Homo sapiens: one gene and its partner. The protein of the gene in region 2 interacts with the protein of the main gene of each other region in a biochemical or structural test. Each region holds a gene or a part of one and is shown on either strand. Other genes may lie near its edges.

The links. The genes of interacting proteins can lie anywhere in the genome.
Region 1: the proteins of CSDE1 (region 2) and ARHGAP5 form a complex in vitro, tested with the Homo sapiens proteins (one study listed by BioGRID).

The regions. Positions count from the first base shown.
Region 1 is NC_000014.9:32,073,360-32,080,326, reverse strand, and holds the start of ARHGAP5 (rho GTPase-activating protein 5), read right to left. Parts: upstream 3,024-6,967; 5' UTR 2,892-3,023; intron 1-2,891. UniProt on the Homo sapiens protein: GTPase-activating protein for Rho family members.
Region 2 is NC_000001.11:114,747,982-114,755,006, forward strand, and holds part of CSDE1 (cold shock domain-containing protein E1), read right to left. Parts: intron 2,227-7,025; 5' UTR 1,840-2,226; intron 1-1,839. UniProt on the Homo sapiens protein: RNA-binding protein involved in translationally coupled mRNA turnover.

The DNA of each region.
Region 1 (6,967 bases), on a different chromosome or scaffold from region 2:
TTTTCTTATATTTAATTAAGTTAAATATTCTTATATTTAAATACAATACACTTAATACATGAAAATAGAAGCTGTCCTGGTTTGGGAGGGTGGGTTGTCATAGGAAGTCTCAAGGCATCTAGGAAAAAAACCCACAGGAATCCAAGGAACAGAGTTTGAAAACCAATTAAAGTTCATACTTAAAATTCTTAGCATTGAAGCATTTTTCTTAATTTCTAATATGGTTTTTCCTATTTCAATAAAATAATCGACAAAAGCCTGCACTTAAAACAAGAGCCTGATTACTCAAATTACTGAATGATGAATCTACTGATGTTTCTTCACAGGTCTTTTAGAAATTAAATTCCCTTGGTGTACTTTAAATATATAATACAAGTATCTTTTAGGAACATAGACATCACTAAAACAACACTGTACAATGCTTCTTCAGCCAATTATATTACTACACACCTTCTTGGTATGCAAAGAAAAAACTGTGGACCATACAACCCAAATAAATAGTTCTTAAAATAGTATCTATGGAAACTACAGTTGCGACAAAACTTATTCTGTAGCTACCAAGAAAATCTCTATTATGCCATTTCATATTTAAGAAGTGACCACTAAAGGCCAACACTCATCTTACATCCTGCCAATGTTGGTAAAGTTTAGTAAAGTCTTTATGAGACCTAACTTTTTCTTCAATTAAAAAAAGTGAGTTAGAAAACTTATTATCGCTACTTCAAATCCAAAAAAGGAATGCAAATACAATATTCATTCCTTAAATAATCTTAACTTTCAAGGTCAAAATAACTCTCCAAAAAAATGACTGTGCTAATATGCTTTTCAAACACAAATAAGAAGGGGAGACGGTTTTCAAAACATTTAGGATAAGTATCTTGTGACAGAATTAAGGTAATAATTTTGCAACACATTTTAAAAATTGCTAAGGTCGTTTAAATGGGGAGGGACACTACAAAACTCATAAAGATAACAGAATTCTGCCGCAATTCTTACATCAAAGTGTAACCCACCTCACTCCCCAGTACTCTTAATAATTAATGTACAAAGAATGGCAAAATAAGACATGTTGATCTAGGTTTAAAAACACAGCCTACACAAGACAACCAAATCAATAGTTATTTAATCATCTGTACCGTCTGATTCTGCTTTAAGTCAATTAGATCAATAGTGCTATTTCTTGAAAGTTACAAGCATAGGTATGCGCAGCCTTTCACTCCAGTGCGTTTAGTCATAAATTGCTCCAGTGTCTTTGCAAGTTTTTGGTGACACATACTTACCGCTCTTTGTACTACAGATAAAGGTAATGGAGGTCAATTAGTATACAAAGGATAGATGAAAGCAAAAAATGAGAAAGGAATTTAAAATGAAAGCAAAATCTTACTCAAGAAACTATCTAGTAGGTTACCTAGACGGTTAGTAATACTTATCTACAAACACTGAATAAGAATACCGTTTTATCGTATTACAGTACAAATAAACTAGAATTGACAGCAAAAGGTTTCATTAACGTATTTTTAAACCAAACATTATTCCAAATGTCTAATCGCTGCATCTAGATGAAATTTTTGTTAGGAGAACCATTTTAAGTGGAAATGTAGAGCAAGCTCCCATGAAGTGAACGAGATCCTTCATGCGGATAAACACCACCTAACATTCTAACTGAATACTGGTTCTGGATTTAAGTGGAATTGACAAACTCGCCCCCCGCCCCTACCTGTAGAAAGCAACATAAGCAAGTACTAGTAAATACAGCGAAGCATTTTGCTGTTTTACACCTGAACATTTAAAAAAAAATTCAGTTTCCTGCCTATCACAAAGGAAAAAATAAATGATCGATAAGAATTTAAACTTAAAACGTAAGCACAAACCCATCTATATGCCTATCTTGCTCTATCTCAAAATATTTGAATTCCCATTTATTAAGCGATGGCCAAATCCGAATTTCTATCACATGGTAGAAGTATAAGCGTCTCCCCTACAACTTTTTCGGGATTTTACTAAACGGCCTAATAACAGTTTGCCCTTACTTCCGTGCACCTTTCAACCTCAGCTACACCCCGAGCCTCCAGCTCTCTTGCATTTCTAATAACGCTGAAGAGGGAGGGTGAGAGGGAGTATTTCTGTGTGGATAAGTGCGCGCGCGCTCCCGCGCGGCTCCCCACCCCCACCCCGATACTTTTCTTTAGTGGAAAGAGAGGAAGAATCTGGAGGTTATTCTAGCGAAAACTCAGTATCAAAGCCTCAACCCAGTCGCAGTCAGCCCATAGGACTCTGGGCTCTGGATGCGCAGTGCAACTTCTCATATCTTACTCCAAGCTTCAAAGCAGATGGAAAATTGGTGAAGAGAACCCAGGGAGGAGTCGAGGAGATGAGGGAAAGTGAAAGGGCCGATCCCCCCTACAAGGCGTTTAAGTTTGCAACCGAGACTGTGTTTCCGCGAATCTGCACCCGCCCCGTGTACCCTTTCCAGGTGGAACTCGTTAACAGCAGCAACCCGGCCAACGGACACCGCCACCTCCCCTCTCGACGGACCACCCGAGACTCGAGCAAGTGAGGCGGCGGGCGAGAGCGGACGCCTGGCGGGGCCGGCGATCCCCGGCCAGCATCAGGCCTCCGCCGACCCTGGCCCCGTCACCTGTGGAGAAAGCACCCCCTCCCCCGGCCTCTCTGCCCTTCACGCCGAACGTATCCCTAACGCTGCAGCTGCTGCCCGCCCGGCCTGCGAAAACCGAGCGCAGCGCCAGGCTCCCCTCGGCGGCCGCGGGGCCCCAGCCCCTTCAACTGGTTACAACCGGCAGCGGCGACCGAGCGGGGCAGCTAGCCGCAGGAGGGTCCCCGTCCGGGAGGGGGCAGGCAGGCTTGGAGGAGCGGGGTCCGCAAGGTCCTACCTAACAACGTCGGTCTCCTCCGTCTCCTCCTCAACGGCAGCGGCCCCGGCGGTGGCGGCGGCAGCGACATTCCTGGGGACCGCTCCCGCCGCCGCCGCCTCCTCCTCCACTCTCCGCTCGCCTCTCTTCCTCGGCGCGCTCACCGAGCGGCGCGTCCCTTCAGCCACCTCCCCCCGCCCTCCCCGACACACACGCCCCGAAACCCTGAGCCCCACGGCTCCCGCAGCCAGCTCACCCACCCTCCCTCCCTCCCTCCCCGCCACCAGCGGCGGCCCGTCCCTCCCCCCTTCCCCAGCGCCCGCCGCCGCGCCGGGCTCAGTAATGGCGGCCACTCGGGCTCCCTCGCGCTGACGGATTTCTCTCCCTCTCTCCCGAACTTTACCTCAGCATCTCTCCCGGCGCGCGCAGCCACACACCCGACCGGGGGCGGAGCGGCGGCGCGGCGGCGCAGCCTGGACGGGACGCGCGCGCGCGCGCGAACCCGCGCTGCCCTCCCCACAATCCCCCGTCCCCGCCCCTTCACCTCGCGACGCCTCCCGCGCCGCGCACCCGGCACGGCCCCGCCCCTGCCCTCGTCTCCCGGGAGCCTGGGAAGGCGCGAGCTATCCAGTCGGAGGGAGGGGGACGAGCGCGCGGGGCCGCGTCCTCGCTCGCGTCCCCGCTCCCTCCTCCCCTCTGCTTCTCCCTCCCCTCCACTCCCCCATTGGCTTCTACCCCTCCCCCTTCTTCCTCCGCCTCTCCCACCATTGGTTCCCTCCCCTACTCCATTCCTTCTCACCTTTTCCCTTTTACCCATTGGCGTGAGTATTTTTCCTCAGCTTCCCTCTTTCTCCGTATTCTGCTCCTCCTCAGTCCCATCCTCCACGCTTTGGAAGCTACTGCCTTACTGCCCGGAGCGCCGTCGTCCCCGAACCTCCCCTGCTTCTCCCTTTCCTTCTGTTCCGGTTTCTGGTCGTAACTCAAGAGCAAACCACCGTACTGCAAAGGAACCAGATATTGTGCTCGCGGTTCCAAACCGGGCATGGGCACCGAATGCTTCTCGATAAATCCCCTTATGGTCTCTGAGCATTAAAGAAAGCAAGGGAGGAAAACATGCGCCCAAGCTCGTTCGCAGGAACATGTTCGCGTGTCTGCGCCTGTGTGCGCAGCCAGTTTTCTGGCTGAGGATCGCTCGCCAACTACAGACATCACCCGCCCAGGACCCGGTGCCACACTCACCCAGAAGACGAAACTCCACAGGAGCGAGAAGAGGAGTCCATTTCTCCGTCGGCTCGGCACGGCACGGGGATGCAGGCCCCTGATTCAGTACGTTCTGTGAAAGTGGAGCGAGAAGCCAAGACGTGGATCGAGAAGCCCCGTGGGGCGGGTCTCAGGGTGGCCCAAAAGACCCCTGTTCACGCCACTACCAGCCTAACTTTAGGAACTGTCGTCCACCTGGCTTTTATTATACTGCCTTAAACATATTCACTTTTTTGAGACTCTAGAAATTTCACAAGTTTTGGGGTAGAGCACACTGGGCTTTGGGTGTGTTTCTCATGAGGGCACTGACGCTGAATGGTGCAGTGAGAAAGGACGGTAGAAACCACTGCCTTTGCTTTTACCATTGAAGAAACTGAGGTCCTGTGACTTTCCCGAGGTCATCGGAATCTGCCTTGCACAGGAGACTTAAAATAGTTGCCAGCAGATAAAAGAATGAGCAAAACCACATCTACTCCAATTTGTTAAGTCTGAAAGAAAGTAATTGAGGGGGGATTCCTCTTTGGGGAAATATTTATTTCCTGCATTGAAAATAGTTTAATGTTAGTAAACATATAAAAAGTATTTTAAATTCAAGTTATTCTTTATTTCTTATGTTACATAAGGTACTGAAGTTAGCCAAGGTTGCTTTTGTGTTATAATGATGCAGCTGCTGCCAACCAGAAGTACATTTACGGTCTGTCAGTAAAGAAAACAAAAACTGCCTGTTGGTAAAAATCTATTAGAAAATATTTGTCAGTAAATTTGTCACAATATTCCAGCAGAAGTTCTGTTCGTTTTTCCGTCTTCCTGCCCTTCATATTTCTCAAAGGTAGACTTAATAAAGGTAGAAGAGACATTTCTAATTTTTCTATATATCTCTTGCTCCCTAATTTCTAAAAGGCATAACTAAAATGCTTTATTCGAGCCACTCCCTTGCATCTGAACCCTACCTACCAAGTAGGTTAAGAGTAGGTTAGGTAAGGTCTGTAGCTACTTCTTTCTTTCAGTTACAAATTGTAGGTGGGAAAGAAGGATGCGGAAGGAAACTTGCAAGGAAAGCAAACAGAAAGAAAAAGAAGTAAAAAAGGAGAGAAGGGAATTTGGTGGGTGGTCCAACCATCAAAATGTGGTACTAATGCCATAGGTATCTACACCACTTATGTAAGTTGGAATGTTGATGCATTCCAACGCATGTTTTTATCTTTGTACTGAAAGCCCTTAAGAATACCCGAAGTAAACATATAAAAAGTATTTTAAGTTCAAGTTATTCTTTATTTCTTATGTTACGTAAGGTACTGAAGTTAGCCAAGGTTGCTTTTTAGTGTTATAATGATGCAGTTCAAAGTCATAACCTGAATAAGATGTTAAGTACTATAGAGTGTACACCCTAAAGATACCTTAAAAATTATGTCCTAAATAATCAGAAATTTTAATAATCATGGACATGTATCAACATAAACCAAAGCCAAATAAATCAGGGCTTCTAAAGAAAACGTTAAAAAGGTGTAATGTTCAGTTATAGGACATGATACTGGAGGCAGGGAAGACTTGAAATCTCATTTATTTTCTTATAATGAAGACACCAGAAGACGTTAAAAAAAAAAAAAAGATCACGATTTCCAAACAATGATTTTCATAGTCGACATTATTTTCAGTTCTTTATCTTGATTTAGGGAGCCTGGAAATTTAGGACTTCGTTTCTTATTAATACTAATAGTCTAAAGGTGTTTACCAGTACAAATAAGTTATTGTATGTAATTTGCTCTTCTCAAAAAATAGAGTTTTCTGTATCAATAAAAATCTGAAATGGGGGCCACAATTCTGTGGCTAATAATGCCTATATATCCATAAATAAAAGGCATCAAAGAGCAGGAGGAAAAATATGTAAGATGGCATCTTTAAAAATTGATCAGGAGCCAAGACTTCAGAGAAAAAGCTTTAAAACACCCACCCTCCCTACTCAAAAGGATAATTTTTAAGAAAATAGGTAACTTATTTACACACACACACATGCGCGCGCACAAATATCGGACAGAAATGGAAATGGAATAAATATTAACAAGCCCTCTCAAATCAACTACTCTTCTTATCTAGAATAAAAAAGTTAAGCCTCTCTTCTGCTGTACTGGATAATTAAAATAACTGGACTCTTTGTTCCTCGTTTACTTTGAAAAAATTAGAATAAGATTTGTCAGGCATTTTCGGTTTTTAATTTAAATTTTCTTCATAAATCTCTAGTTCTTCATCACATCCTAATAAAGTATTAATATGCATGGTCTTTTTGAGATCAAAAGACATGACAGTCATAAAAAAAGTTATCATAATTCCAGCTTCTACCATTAGTGGTAATACTGCAATATTCAAATGTTTCATATGTTGTGGCTTCAAAAGAACTTACCCTATAGAGGCAGCTACACCCCCTGCTGGAAATCTTTGATCATAACAACTTTGGCTTCTGTAGTCTCAATCAGGAACATATGAAAAGCCAAATAAAGGGCCTTACCACTCATGACAGAATTGACCAATACTTTAGCCTGTCTGATACAAGACAGGCTTTTGGAGAACAACCTATGTCAGAATATCACCTTGATTACAGACAAAATACACAAAGAGGATGGAGAATAATGATGTAAATAGCTAAATAGCCAAAACACTTGTAAGATATTTGCTTAATTTCCAACTGTATTTCCACTCTTTACCTTATCCCCATCTCCTGCCTAGACTTCTCTTTTTCTCTCTATCTCATACAATTAGGCCTACTTGAGGGGAGGAAGAAGGCAGGATAAGATGGGATATTAATCCTTCAGCTAGGCAAATAATGGTGTATCAATCCACAG
Region 2 (7,025 bases):
TAAAAATCAGCTAAGGTAAGAAGAAACAAATAGAAAAACTAAATGCTACAATTACCTTAAAATTAAATAACAGTGTCTGTTTATGAGACATAGATAATTTTACTATAGTTTTTAGTTGTTAAGGAATAATTCTAGTGCACAGCAAGGTCACTGACACTATTACATAATCCTTCAATAAATTGGAAATAAAGTCCTAAGCGCTTCTTGAAATAGCAGTGAAGCTTTTGTAACTGAATGACTTATTTTCATTCTTCATTTTATTTGACCTCTGTAGCATCTAAAAAAATGTTTACCATTGACTTCCTGAAATTATCGTTGGTGCTTTTTCCTGACTTCTATGTCTTTGCTCTCTTCATTGGTGCTTCTTCCTTTTATTACCTATACACTGATGACTCCTTTCTGAATTCCTTTATGTCTAACTTTAGAAAATCTGGAAACTAAAGATTAAAAAGGAAAATTGCTCTTCATAAGCCTACCCTCAAAGTTAACCACTGTTCAATATTCCATACTAGTGTATTTCCTTCAACTTCAGATTGCTATCTAATGAACACAATAGATTTCCATAACATATTTTAATATCAGTAAGTTACTACTCTAACTTCCCTATTCCTATGAACAATGAAGGTTTCTAGTTTGCACAACTGGATTTGATAAAGCCATTCTCTCCACATTTATCTTCAGATTCAATTGGTCCCCAAGTCCTCACTTCTAAATCATCAGAACACCTAGCACCTACCTTTTTCTCTACCTACACCTTAGCTTTTATCTTCCTTATACTTGATCCACTGCTTTTGACAGGTCTTCCCATCCTCAGCCTTTCCCTCAAAAGTGTCACCATTTGTCTTTTAAAGGTACACTTCTGAATATTACTTTAAAATGTGAAGCAATAAAGCTATCTTACTTTTGGGGGAAAAACCCTTAAGCCCTTGCTTATAGACATCTGATGGCTCTCCTACGGAATAAAGACAAATGCATTGGGCCAAGCCTCCAGCAAACTTCCCTTTCATAACTCTCCCGCAAAATTATATTCTCTACTCTGTTCATAATGAACAACTTAATATATACCATGTGCTTTCACGTAGCCCTGAATCTGCTAATTCTGTTACCTCTATACCTCTACCAATGTCTCTTCTACCTCTTAACAAGGTACTACTCACCTTCAAATATCCCTTTTCTGTAGGCTTTCTTTACCCTCCTCCTTACCTCCAAGGGAACAGCTTCAGTTATATTCTTAATATTTTATTAGTATCTTTTAGCCTATATTGTGATATTGTGTAACAAATTGTTCTAAATCATTAAGTCCATTAGTATCTTATTCATTCGTTATATTTCAGCACTAGCAATGCCTAACAATACAGTAGGCATGTCAACCATTTACAAATGTGCACTGTATACCGTTCACAAATATGCACTGCAAATGTAGGCATGGATATAAAGTAAGGTTCTTTCCTCAAGAAGCTAACATTGAAGACAGTAGAGAGAAAGAAACAGACGTCAGTAGCAAATATCACCAAAGTTTCACAGACCCTCATAGAAAGACTGCAATGCACATTCTTATTTGAAATCCTAACTTCTAAATAGTACAGACGGAGCTTCTCTAAGAGACCAGCAAGTCGAGAGATCAGCATGTATTAATATAATCTGGTATGAAAAATGTTTGACCATAAATACTGTCCTTATCTAACAAGAGATAGTGTTGATATTTCATACTAGTTGAGAATAGAAAAACTGTCTTCTGAATACCTTTAGAAAAGAACAAATAAAGATTTTATATTTGACCAAATAATCAGGAAATCTAGAATTATGGAACTGATTCTTAATAGGAAATTACAAACCTACCTCGCAGTGATACTCAAATATTGCACTTTCAGTAGTATTTGCTGATTCTTCTTTTTCAGCACACGTTTCAAAGGATGAAAGTTGCTAGTATTAAAAAAAAGAGCGAGAGAAAATGATCTACCAAGCTAATAAAGAATACAACTGCTGCTGTACCGGGCAATCTCACAGTACAGCACTGAAGAAAACAAAGACTACTAGCAGCGTTGGGAAGTGCTCTTTCAAAGCTGTTGAGTAGGCACAAACTTCTTGTTTCAGATCAAGTGTTGTGTCTTCAACTTAAGTGTACTCTTCTTTGGTCTTGTTAGTTGTTACGAGGTTTGTTCCTTGCCTGATCTGAACTTGAAGCAGCAGTTTCAGGTGGTAAAGTCTGTTCTGTTACACTTCATACTAAAGGTAAAAAATGAAGACATTAAGTATAACATACATAAAATAATCAGGGACAGTGGGTGAGAAGAGGGACAAACTCATTTCATTAACTTAGAATCATGGGTCATGCAAGTAATGCAGGAAACTTGGAAGCATGCTCATCTGATGTTATTTGGAGCAATCTCTCAAGTACTAGCAACTACCTCCTTTGGTATCTCATACCCAAGACCTCAAATTATTCCATAGTCTTTATTGACCTCTTCCCCCAAATAAGCTCAGTTACATGGCATAATGTTTAATTTAGTGCAAGTATTTTATAAGGATCTAGCTCTGTGGAAAACATAAAAGAAGTCCCTGCCATGAGAGCATAGACAATCTTGCTGAAAAGACAAGATGTAAACATGGAAAAAAAAAACAGAGTATAGGACAAAAATGCCAAAAATTATTTTGCTCAATTAGTATCTAGGTATCTATTATGTCACAGACTATCTAGAAATATTATTTATTGTTTATCCACAACTGCATGTCCATCAAAGCAACCAAGGCTTTTAAATAAGTGGAATTTGAAGTGAACCTGGAAAATCAGGCAGAATTCTAGGAGAAAGAAAATAGCTGAGTATTCTAGGCATGAAACAGCACATAAGTCAAGCGAGAATATGCCACTAAATTCTTTCTTCAGAGCAGCGACCATGCATTCTATGATTTTCTAAGCCCAGCATCAAGTGAAGTCTTCTGCATGAATGCCTGTGGCAACATGTGTGGCTTGTTGTTTCAGAGGAAAATCAACAGGCTAGCCTGGCTAGAACAGAGAGCTGGGCTGAAGTGAAATAGGATATGTAGTGTGACAGGTGTAGCGGAGCCCGATTATGAAGCATTTCAACGTGATGTAACAGGAAACAGTGCCTTAGTTTTTGATGAAAGTGGTATTAAGTCTTGAAATCCTAAAGGAGATGACTTAGTAAGCAAACAGAAATCTCATTTGCACTGCTGCAGTAAATAGATGAGAAATGTCTATAGAAGAGAAATAAAATTTATTTATCAGTAAAAATCACATTTCTGCTTTATATTAGCTATAAAATAAACAACAATTTTGCACTGACTCCAAAGTTACAAAATGGTGTTAACGAAAATTATTTCTACAGAGATAAGAAAAAGGTGTACGTGCTGAGAAATGGATATTTGAAAACATCAGAAGAATGATTATCAGGTGAGAGGTCAGAGCTGATTAAATAGCTCAGACCAGAAGAGCCTAATCGCAATCACTGGTACTAGTAAATACCATGAACAAGTTATTTAATCTCTCTAAGTTTCACTTTCCTCACATGTAAAATAAAAACTCAATAACAGCTGATCTGGCCATTTTCTATTCTCTAACATCCCATGTTCCTTCAAATATCAAATGTTACATACACTTGTCTGATCTTTCAACTTTATTTAGATCATTCTCCTATTACCCAGACTAGATATATGTCTCAGGGTAATGGTGCTCAAATACTTGGGAAGCTTTAAAAAAAAAAAAACAAAAACAAACCTATGCCCAGCCTCCACTCAGAGTAATACAACTGGTTTGAGGTAGGGCCACTTCTTTAACTATCTTGATTCTTCCCCTCTCCATCACCATACCCAATGTTGCAAGTTGTGTTAGTATTTCCCTCGCTATATCTTTTGTATTCATCTCTTATCCTACTAAGTGACATATTTTAGCTCAGGTGTCTAATATATCCGCCAACTTCCAGTGTGCACACTTTCCATTTTCTGTCACATACCACCACCAGACTATCAAAAACTTGAATTTTGGCCAGGTGAGTTGGCTCACGCCTGTAATCCCAGCACTTTGGGAGGCCTTGGCAGGAGGTCTGCTTGAGCCCAGGAGCTCCAGACCAGCCTGGGCAACGTGGAGAAACCCCATCTCTACTAAAAATACAAAAAATTAGCCAGGCATGGTGGTATACGCCTGGAGCCTCAGCTACTTAGGACTGGGAAGTCAAGGCTGCAGAGAACAAGATAGTGACACAGCACTACAGCCTGGGAGACAGATCAGAACCTTGTCTCAAAAAACAAAACAAAACAAAAACTCTCCAATTTCATTTCTCATCTCCCCTGTCAAACATCTTCAGTTATTTTTCCACCATTCTAGATGGGAAGTTTTTAATCCTGGCTATCCACCCACCCCCAGCAACCTTAAACAAACAAACAAACAAAAACCAACAAAATCAAAGCCTGAGTCCCGTACAAAGATTCTAAATTTAACTACACTAGGTTAGGTGCCAGGCCTTGTTATCTCCCCCCAACCCCTGCTCCAAGTGTTTCTGACTTCCAGCCAGGATTAAGAACTACTATTCCAGGTGTCTCTATTCTACCTTCCATCCTTACTCTCTACTGTGTTCCAGTTCTACCAGAAGTCCATTACCTCGCCTAATCCTTAAACACAACTCTTGGGAGATTCCTGAATTCTAGCCACCTTTGCTTATATGGGTCTTCCCACAAAAAAATACTATGTTGTGATCTTCAAGGTGACAAAAAAGCCTTTCTTGACCATTCCAGCAGACTCATTCATTAATTCCTACTAATGAATGGGGCAGTAACATCCACTGCCTGCACCAAGCAATTTGCAGCAAGTGATACCAAGCAATTTCTGTACTTTGTTTACTTCATGTTTTTATGTATCTTGTTCCTCCAATTCTATTTCAAATTTCTGAGAGGTAAACTCAAATTTCTTTATCACAGCCTCCTTTCGCACCTAATCCAGTGCTGCCATATACAACCAAAGGAAAAAGGTAGTTAATCCTTAATAAGCAAAAGGACGCCACAATTCAAGTGTAAACAGTTATGCCACAATTCAAGTGTAAACAGTTATACCACCTTTAATTATATAGTTTTAATTATCCAATCAAGAAATAATCTCTTCTTTAAAAAATACAGACTGTGTATATTGGTTTTATCTTAATGCTTTAGGTGTATTAATGAACCCAAAGAACTCAACATGGAGAAAACAAGTTATCTTGAAACACTTGAACTGGATTAACCCATTCCAGGTTGTCGTATCACATTAAGAACTGTCAAGTCCAAGATTCAGTAACACAAAAAAAGAGATTTCTGGAACTGAAACTCTGGAGTACTGCAGGGCCATTCTTAGGCACTAATGAGGTCTATTAGGAGCTATTAAAGCTCAAACGAACCCACCAACAGTCATGAATAATTTACTGGCCGAATTAACATCTTCACAGCTTCTATAGTTAACTAAATGTTTTTCAATTAAATTAACACTTACTGAAGAACTTAAAGGTATTGGTCAGGCAGTTTAATATAAATAGCTATCCACTCATGCCCGGATTAACATTAATTGGTGCTACTAACCACCTCTTTTGCCTTAACCCTAGGAACACAAGTGCATCTCCTCCATCCCCCTAAAAGCTTGAAACTTAAGTTGCATGAAACACTGGGTATTGGGCTGGGGTGGTGGCTCTCGCTTGTAATCCCCAGCACTGTGGCAGGCCAAGGTGGGAGGATTGTCTGAGACCAGCCTGGGCAACATGGTGAGATGCTGTCTCTACAAAAAATTTTAGAAATAAAAAATAAATTCACTGGGTGTGGTGGCATGCACCTGTAGTCCCAGCTACTCGGGAAGCTGAGGCAGGAGGATCACTTGAATCCAGGAGTTTGAGGCTGCAGTGAGCTATGACTGTGCCACTGCACTCTTGCCTGGGCGACAGAGTAAGACGCTGACTCAAAACAATCGCCCCCACAAACCCACCATAGGGTACCAATAAAAACACTAGGGAACAATTTAAATGTGTATCTGAGAATCATACTGTGTGCTAAGTAATCAACTCCTTTTCCCTTTGCTCAGCATGGAAATAGTATTATTACTTAATCACTGCAATCTCCACCTCCCGGGTTCAAGCGATTCTCCTGCCTCAGCCTCCCCAGTAGCTGGGACTACAGGCGTGTACCACCAGGCCTGGCTGGCTAATTTTTGTATTTTTAGCACAGATGGGGTTTCACCATGTTGGTCAGGCTGGTCTCGAACTCCTGACCTCAAGTGACCCACCTGCCTCAGCCCCCCAAAGTGCTGGGATTACAGGCGTGAGCCACTGCACCTGGCCACCACCTGTTTTATTTCATGTCTTCCTCGGCTGTTTTACCTCAAAGGCCTAGCATAAGCCATGACATAGTCGGCACTAAATGAAGAGGTTAAACTAACACATTTATGTGGTAAGTAATCCATCTAAAATGTATCACACTACCTAGTTTATTATTTTGAAAGTATGTGCAGCACTCACTTCGGGAAAAGTTAATGAAAGGCTAAGCCAGTCTACAAAAGTCTGCTCACCTAACCCACTTCCTTTAGGCAGTATCTTCTTTTAGGCAGGAAAAAACAAAGACCCAAATAGGTAGCATAGGACTGAAAAGTTTCTCTATTGCCTGACATTTCATTGAGCACCACATTTTATAACTGAAGTGCTTAATAGGTCTTAATTCATTTTTACTTTAGGATCTAAGGTAAACGATAAACTCTAGATAATTAACCAACCTAAGTCATCTGTTGAGTAAAAATAAAAAATCAAACTGACACAACTATCTTTTTGTATCTGTGTAGTAACAACTGTGCTGGATTAATTATCTAAACAGCTACTGAGATATTTAAAATTATCTATCACTTAACTGCTTATATATACACCCAGAAACCTAATAGTTTTAAGCAGGACAAATGGCAGTGTGGGAAGATGCTGAAGAAACATTCTAGACACATCAGAAAACACCACAGACCAGCAGTTTCCAACAGAAATACAGTGTAATTATAATTCTAGTAACCATAT